2 linked regions of the Homo sapiens genome follow. The protein of the gene in region 2 interacts with the protein of the main gene of each other region in a pairwise test. Each region holds a gene or a part of one and is shown on either strand. Other genes may lie near its edges.

The links. Proteins that work in one complex are often made in the same cells at the same time.
Region 1: the proteins of ADCY4 (region 2) and PPARG interact in binary tests that used the Homo sapiens proteins (3 or more experiments, as listed by UniProt).

Annotation. Positions count from the first base shown.
Region 1 is NC_000003.12:12,414,447-12,418,098, reverse strand, and holds part of PPARG (peroxisome proliferator-activated receptor gamma), read right to left. Parts: intron 1,396-3,652; coding exon 945-1,395; intron 1-944. UniProt on the Homo sapiens protein: Nuclear receptor that binds peroxisome proliferators such as hypolipidemic drugs and fatty acids.
Region 2 is NC_000014.9:24,325,061-24,328,712, reverse strand, and holds part of ADCY4 (adenylate cyclase type 4), read left to right. Parts: intron 1-2,370; coding exon 2,371-2,414; intron 2,415-2,547; coding exon 2,548-2,634; intron 2,635-2,825; coding exon 2,826-2,895; intron 2,896-3,238; coding exon 3,239-3,336; intron 3,337-3,652. UniProt on the Homo sapiens protein: Catalyzes the formation of the signaling molecule cAMP in response to G-protein signaling.

The DNA.
Region 1 (3,652 bases), on a different chromosome or scaffold from region 2:
TCTACTTGGGAGGCTGAGGTGGGAGAATCACTTGAGCCCAACTGTAAAATGGCCACGTATTACTTTTATGAAGTAGCATGATCATAGCTTACTAACTGCAGTTAGAAGCTGCAGTGAGCTATGACTGTGCAACTGCACTTCAGTCTGGGTGACAGAGTGAGGCCCTGTCTCACAAAAAAAAAAAAAAAAAAAAAAAGGAAAAAAAAAAAAGAAAAAAAAAAGAAAAAAGTCACACTCAGAAGAAAATCTGGCTTTTGGAATTGGTTAGTCAGATCATGTACTACTTGCAGGGCCAAAAATACAACAAATTGCTAAATAACTAAATTTATTTCTATGTTGTGTGTTCGGTTCACATTGCATTCTTAATCACAACCAACTACCTCACAAAGGTACTTTAAGGGAAGCCATCAGAGGAATCCACACAAGAGAGTGGGTGGAGGTCAGTAGGTATTCCTTAATTCCTGATATCACAAAAGCAATTCAAAGTAGTATCTTACTGATGGTGGGGCAGGAGCATGATTTGACCAGAAATACTTAGTGGTCCCTTCTCTACATCAAGTGAGCATTGTCTTAAGCAAAGTTATACATGCCATTACTTACAGGAACCAAAGATTAGACTGGCCTCTAATCTTCCTTTCTGGAAGGAAAAGAAAGAGACAAAGAAAAGAAAAGAAAAAGAAAAAGGAGAAGAGGGCATTTGACTGGAAAAAATATATTGTTGAGGGATGAAAGAGAAGATCCTGGGTTACTTATAACCTTCACACCGCAAACCTATGACACTCTTTCTTGGTACAGTGTTTTGCACGTGTAGTGATGATTCATGGCATCATGCCACTGGCACTTAAAGTGACAATGCAGACTAACACTAAGGAAATCCAAAATTCTTTTGGCCACCCCACCATCATCCCACCCTCTTTCATAGAAGATCAAAAGACAAATCTTACCTCCACTGAGAATAATGACAGCAATAAATATTGCCAAGTCGCTGTCATCTAATTCCAGTGCATTGAACTTCACAGCAAACTCAAACTTGGGCTCCATAAAGTCACCAAAAGGCTTTCGCAGGCTCTTTAGAAACTCCCTTGTCATGAAGCCTTGGCCCTCGGATATGAGAACCCCATCTTTATTCATCAAGGAGGCCAGCATTGTGTAAATGATCTCGTGGACTCCATATTTGAGGAGAGTTACTTGGTCGTTCAAGTCAAGATTTACAAAACCAGGAATGCTTTTGGCATACTCTGTGATCTCCTGCACAGCCTCCACGGAGCGAAACTGGCAGCCCTGAAAGATGCGGATGGCCACCTCTTTGCTCTGCTCCTGCAGGGGGGTGATGTGTTTGAACTTGATTTTATCTTCTCCCATCATTAAGGAATTCATGTCATAGATAACGAATGGCTGCAAATAAAACAGGGAAAACGTGGATGACTTGGAGATTTCTAACTCACAGTGAATGCCATCCCAGGTTCAGAAAACTGTTTATGTAAACTTGCTTTGCTAACTAAAATCTTTAAAGCTGAAGATGCTTAATAATGAGAAAATACTCTCAAGTTCTTTTATTCATCTTAATTATCTTCTGGGACCAAACATATTTCACCAATTTTGGTCTTCTTTCCCTTCAATTTACACTGTAACACTTTACCTATGACTGGCTAAGAATCCTGATTTCTTTTGTTTGGGGAGTCTTCATTGTTGATTTTTATATTATTTGTTTGTTTGTTTTTGAGACAGAGTCTCACTCTGCGCCCAGACTGAATTACAGTGGCACAATCAGGGCTCACTGCAACCTCCACCTCCCAGGTTCAAGCAATTCTTGTGCCTCAGCCTCCTGGGTAGCTGGGATTACTGGCATGCACTGCCACACCCAGCTGATTTTTGTATTTTTAGTAGAGATGGGGTTTCACCATGTTGGCCAGGCTGGTCTTGAACTCCTGGCCTCAAGTGATCTGCCTGCCTTGGCCTCCCAAAGGGCTGGGATTACAGGCATGAGCCACCACACCCGGCCGATTGTTGATTTTTAAAATGATACAAAATCTACTGTTTATCTTGGCTTTCAATGAAATACACTTTTAACCTTCTTTCAATAAAAAACCATTTCAGCAACTCAGCGTTGAAAATACCCACTTGAACATAAAGTAACTACAGGTTTAAAAAAATTTTTTTTTCTTAAAATTTCTTTTTCCTTTTCCTTTGTTCTCCTTCACAGGTAATAACTTTTCCGTTTTAGATGAAATCCTCTCAGATCTCAAATGAAACTATGTGCACATAAAATATGCTTAACTATGAAAAATCACTCGGAAAGCAGATTACAGCTCTTGAACCAAGAAAATGTCTATTTCTTTTTTTAATGCTCTGGAAGCCATCTATTTCACAAAGAGCAGATATAGAAGGCCTACAGGTGAATGCTGCAAAAAAGCAATTTTGAATTTATATTTTAAAATATCTGTCCTTATAGGTCAAACAATCAATAAAATACATGCCCCAATTATTCAAGTTTGCAATAGGCTGCCTTCAAAAGTTAAGTCATTTGGTCATGACATTCTCTCTCTTTTACTTCCCTTGTATAGAACTAAGCAAGGTTTGTAGTCATTGAGAAATTCTCAAGGCTGTTCTGACTAAGGGGTAACATTTTACTTACACTGGATACACTGAATGACACATAAGGAGTTAAACCTTGAATCCTGTTCAAATACTTGTATACCTGAAAGCACTGGAAGAAGAGCTGAGGGTATGTGTGTTCCAGCTTTGGTTCTGTGGTGAGCCATGTGACTTAAGAAAAGTCATTTACCTTTCCTAGGCCTTAAATTTCTCAATCAGGGGTTTCCATCTCTTCTCCGGAGGAAATTCTAGTTGCATTTCTCAGAAGCAGGATGTGTGTGGGGAGTGGGCATATGTGTGGAGAGGTGTGAGTGTGCATGCACGACAAACATGAAGTCTCTGATGGACTAAAAGTAAAGATTGTTTTGAGCAGAGATGCTGACAATTCTCTCCTGAAAGGAGAGAAGGTGCATGAGTGGCCGTGGCAGCCGGCTTCAAGATGCACTGGTTGGAGATTCTATTCATATCTATGGAACTCTATGATTTTCATCAAAAGATTAAGTTTGTTCTAAACTGGAGGAAATAACACCAACATTGAGGAGTCTCAGATATTAAATATATTTCCAAACTTGTACGTCACATCAACACCCTTTACTGGAGTTATTCTGGAAGTTTTTACTTTTGTTACCAAAAAATTCACTTCAACTGTACTACTTAGCAAACTCCAAAAGAGGACAGATGTGAGGACCCCCAAACAGGTTTACTTGGTGGCTCTAATTTTTAAGGAAATTGGGACCAAACTGTCCTTACCGTATTTCTTAAACATTTTGCTTGGGTGGTTTCTTTCCTTTTTCTTTTTTTCTTTTCAGGATTAATATTATTAATGGGAGGAATACAAGGGGGGCAGAGCAAGTAACATCGATGAAAATTTACTGTATTTTTCCAGAACGTCAGGTTCTAATTATGAGAAAAATGTGAATGGATAATGATGCTTTCACAGAACCTAGAGAAAACGTGTTTCTTGTCCTCCAGGCATTTTACAGTGTATTATAATTTATATTAATGAAATATTTACTTTCTTTTTCTAAAAAAAAATTATTTCATTTTTTGAGATGAG
Region 2 (3,652 bases):
GCCCGGGGGACCACTACCACCAATGCGCGGAGACCGGTAGTGGCCCCGAATGTCGGGCTGCGCTGTTATTTATTGGATACAAGGCAGAAGGGGCAAGGTAAAGAATGTGAGTCACCTCCAATGATAGGTAAGGTCATGTGGGTCACATATCCACTGGACAGGGGGCCCTTCCCTGCCTGGCAGCCGAGGCAGAGAGGGAGAGGAGACAAAGAGAAAGACAGCTTACACCATTATTTCTGCATATCAGGGACTATTAGTATTTTCACTAATTTACTACTGCTATCTGGAAGGCAGAGCCAGGTGTACAGGATGGAACATGAAGGTGGACTAGGAGCGTGACCACTGAAGCACAGCATCACAGGGAGACGGTTAGGCCTCCGGATAACTGTGGGTGAGCCTGACTGATGTCAGGGCCTCCACAAGAGGTGGAGGAGCAGAGTCTTCTCTAAACTCCCCCAGGGAAAGGGAGACCCCCCCCCCCACCCCGCTTTCCCGGTCTGCTAAGTAGCTGGTGTTGTTTCTTGACACCTTTTGCTACCGCTGGACCATGATCCGCTTGGTGACGGGCGTCTTCCCAGATGCTGGCGTCACCGCTAGACCAAGGAGCCCTCTGGTGGCCCTGTCCAGGCATAACAGAAGGCTCGCACTCCTGTCTTCTGGTCACTTCTCACTATGTCCCCTCAGCTCCTATCTCTGTATGGCCTGGTTTTTCCTAGGCTATGATTATTGAGTGAGGATTATCATAATATTGGAATAAAAAGTAATTGCTACCCACTAATGATTAATGATACTCATATATAATCATATCTAAGATCTATATCTGGTATAACAATTCTTGTTTTATATTTTATTATACTGGAACTGCTCGTGTCCTCTGTCTCTTGCCTCGGTGCCTGGGTGGCTTGCCACCCACACACCATGTCCATAACTCCCCAGCCTCTACTCAGGAGAGTGCCTTCCCCTGACACCACAAAGGCAGTTGGACCCCCCACTTCCTCCTGTCTCTGATTCTAGGGCTGTGCACCCATAGCACCAGGAAATGTCTCTGTTTAACTCAATTCCTGAAACTGCATGCTCTCTTCTTCAACCCCCCAACACTGGGGAGTGGGGGAAGGACACTGGCAGCAGTGGTTGCAGGAAGTACTTAATTCCAAGTGTTAACATGAGGTAGGGGAGAGGTCAGAGGGTTAAGCTGGCAGGAGGAAGAGGAAGGAAGAAGCTGAGGTTCAGCTGACTGTTGCAGGATGAGACCTCCAGCATGGGTGGAGTGGTGTGTGGGGACTGCTACAAGCCCAGGGACTGTGAGATGGTGTTAGGTACAATTACATAGCAGGAATGCCTGCCGGGGCCCATGCTAGACCTCCTGCCGCTTTCCACTGGTGTGCAGGCTAGGGAGTATTAGGGTGGAAGAGCAGGACCCTTTGTTCAAGGGTGTCTCCTGAGGCAGGACCTTCACTAGCACAGAAATCCACTTAGCCCCTGAAGTTCCAGGGGCTCAGTCAAATATTAGAAATCTTGCCAGGCACGGTGGCTCACACCTGTAATCCCAGTACTTTGGGAGGATGAGGCAGATGGATAGCTTGAGGTCAGTAGTTTGAGACCAGCCCGGCCAACATGGCGAAACCCCATCTCTACTAAAAATACAAAAATCAGCCAGGCGTGGTGGTGCGTGCCTGCAATCCCAGCTACTCAGGAGGCTGAGGCAAGAGAATTGCTTGAACCTGGAAGGCGGAGGTTGCAGTGAGCTGAGATTGCACCAATGCACTCCAGCCTGGGCAACAAGAGCGAAACTCCGTTGCAAAAAAAAAAAAAAAAATCCAGCCAGGTACGGTGGCTCATGCCTATAATCCCAGCACTTTGAGAAGCCGAGGCAGGCGGATCACCTAAGGTCAGCAGTTTGAGACCAGCCTGACCAACATGGTGAAACCCCATCTCTACTAAAAATGCAAAAATTAGCTGGGCGTGGTGGCACATGCCTGTAATCCCAGCCACCTGGAAGGCTGAGGCAGGAAAATCGGTTGAACCTGGGAGGTGGAAGTTGTGGTGAGCCGAGATCATGCCATTGCACTCCAGCCTGGTGACAGAGCAAGATTCAGTCACACACACACACACACACACACACACACACACACACACACACAAAGATCCTGGGAGTCTAGAGAGTCAGGGGGAAACTTTAAGGAGATTCAAACCTCCCCTTCAAGGGCAGGTGGGATTTGGGAGACAGAGAGGTCATTAGAGGCAAAAGAAAGAGCCCAGTGAAATGCCCAAGGTCAAAGACATGTATAGAGCATGCAGTGTGGCTCATGGTCTACCTCACTGCAGGGAAAACACCCACCATGCCCACCTCCCCCTGTGCTCTCCCAACAGGAGAAGACCCTGGCTTCCTTCAGCACCCAGTGGAGCCTGGATCGGTGAGGAGGCCTCAAAGTCTTTGCCAGTGGGGCTGTCTGGATGACCCCCTCCATCCTCCCTGGGGGTCTGCTCCTGCTTTGCCCAGACGCTCTGAGGGTCTCTGTGGTGATGGACTTGGCTCTCACTGTGCAGGAGCCGTACCCCCCGGGGACTAGATGATGAACTGGACACCGGGGATGCCAAGTTCTTCCAGGTCATTGAGCAGCTCAACTCGCAGAAGTACGGAGAACAAAGAGGGCTGGGGGGGCCGCAGGCCCTGAGGTCATATGGTGGAGAAGGGATGGTGCTCCCTGAGGGGCTGGAGGGAAGACTCGCCTGACCACCCCCTCTTGCCCTCACTCTGCCCTCTTCCTGCCCTTCTGTGCCCTCTGTTCTCTGGTGCTTTCACCCACCCTCCCACCTCCCACCAGACAGTGGAAGCAGTCGAAGGACTTCAACCCACTGACACTGTACTTCAGAGAGAAGGAGATGGAGAAAGAGGTGGGCTGTGGTGTGGGTGGCACCAAACAACTTCCCAACTTTAGTTCCTTGGTGCTGGGGAGGGGTCAGCCCTTGGGTCTCCTCCCCAAGTCTGCTCAGTTTGTGATCCTAGGGGTGAGGAGCTTGTGCCTCTCTCTAAAGGAAAGTCACTCTGTAGACTGAGCTACTAGATGGTAGGGGGAGGAAGGAGGGTAACTCCTTGGAGAACTGGTAGGGTCTACATGGAACTGAACTGGAGCCTGGGCGGTGAGGCTGAGGAGCCCACCCCTTGCCTGGGAGTGATGCCTTCAAGGTGATGGGTAGCACTGGACCCTGTCTCCACCTCTGGCCCTCTCACTTTCAGTACCGACTCTCTGCAATCCCCGCCTTCAAATACTATGAAGCCTGCACCTTCCTGGTTTTTCTCTCCAACTTCATCATCCAGATGCTAGTGACAAACAGGTGAGAGTGCCCCAGGCAAAGGAGGCCCTGGCTGTCATAAGCGGATCACCTTGCCCTCATGACCCCGGGCCACACTTTCTTCCTTCACCCCTTCCCCTTAGCTTCAGGCACTTACCCACAGAGGAAACATGTGTTCTGGGGAAAATGATAATCACGGCCCTTATCTTAACCTTGTAGATCCTGTGGACTTTCTACACAGCCCTAGCATTTTCCCATGAGCATCTCTTTTGATTCTAACAACATCCCCATGAAGGCCAGTTTGTTTCCATTGAGAAACCCAAATCTGGCAGCAAATGCATGAGCTTAGAAAGTAGGC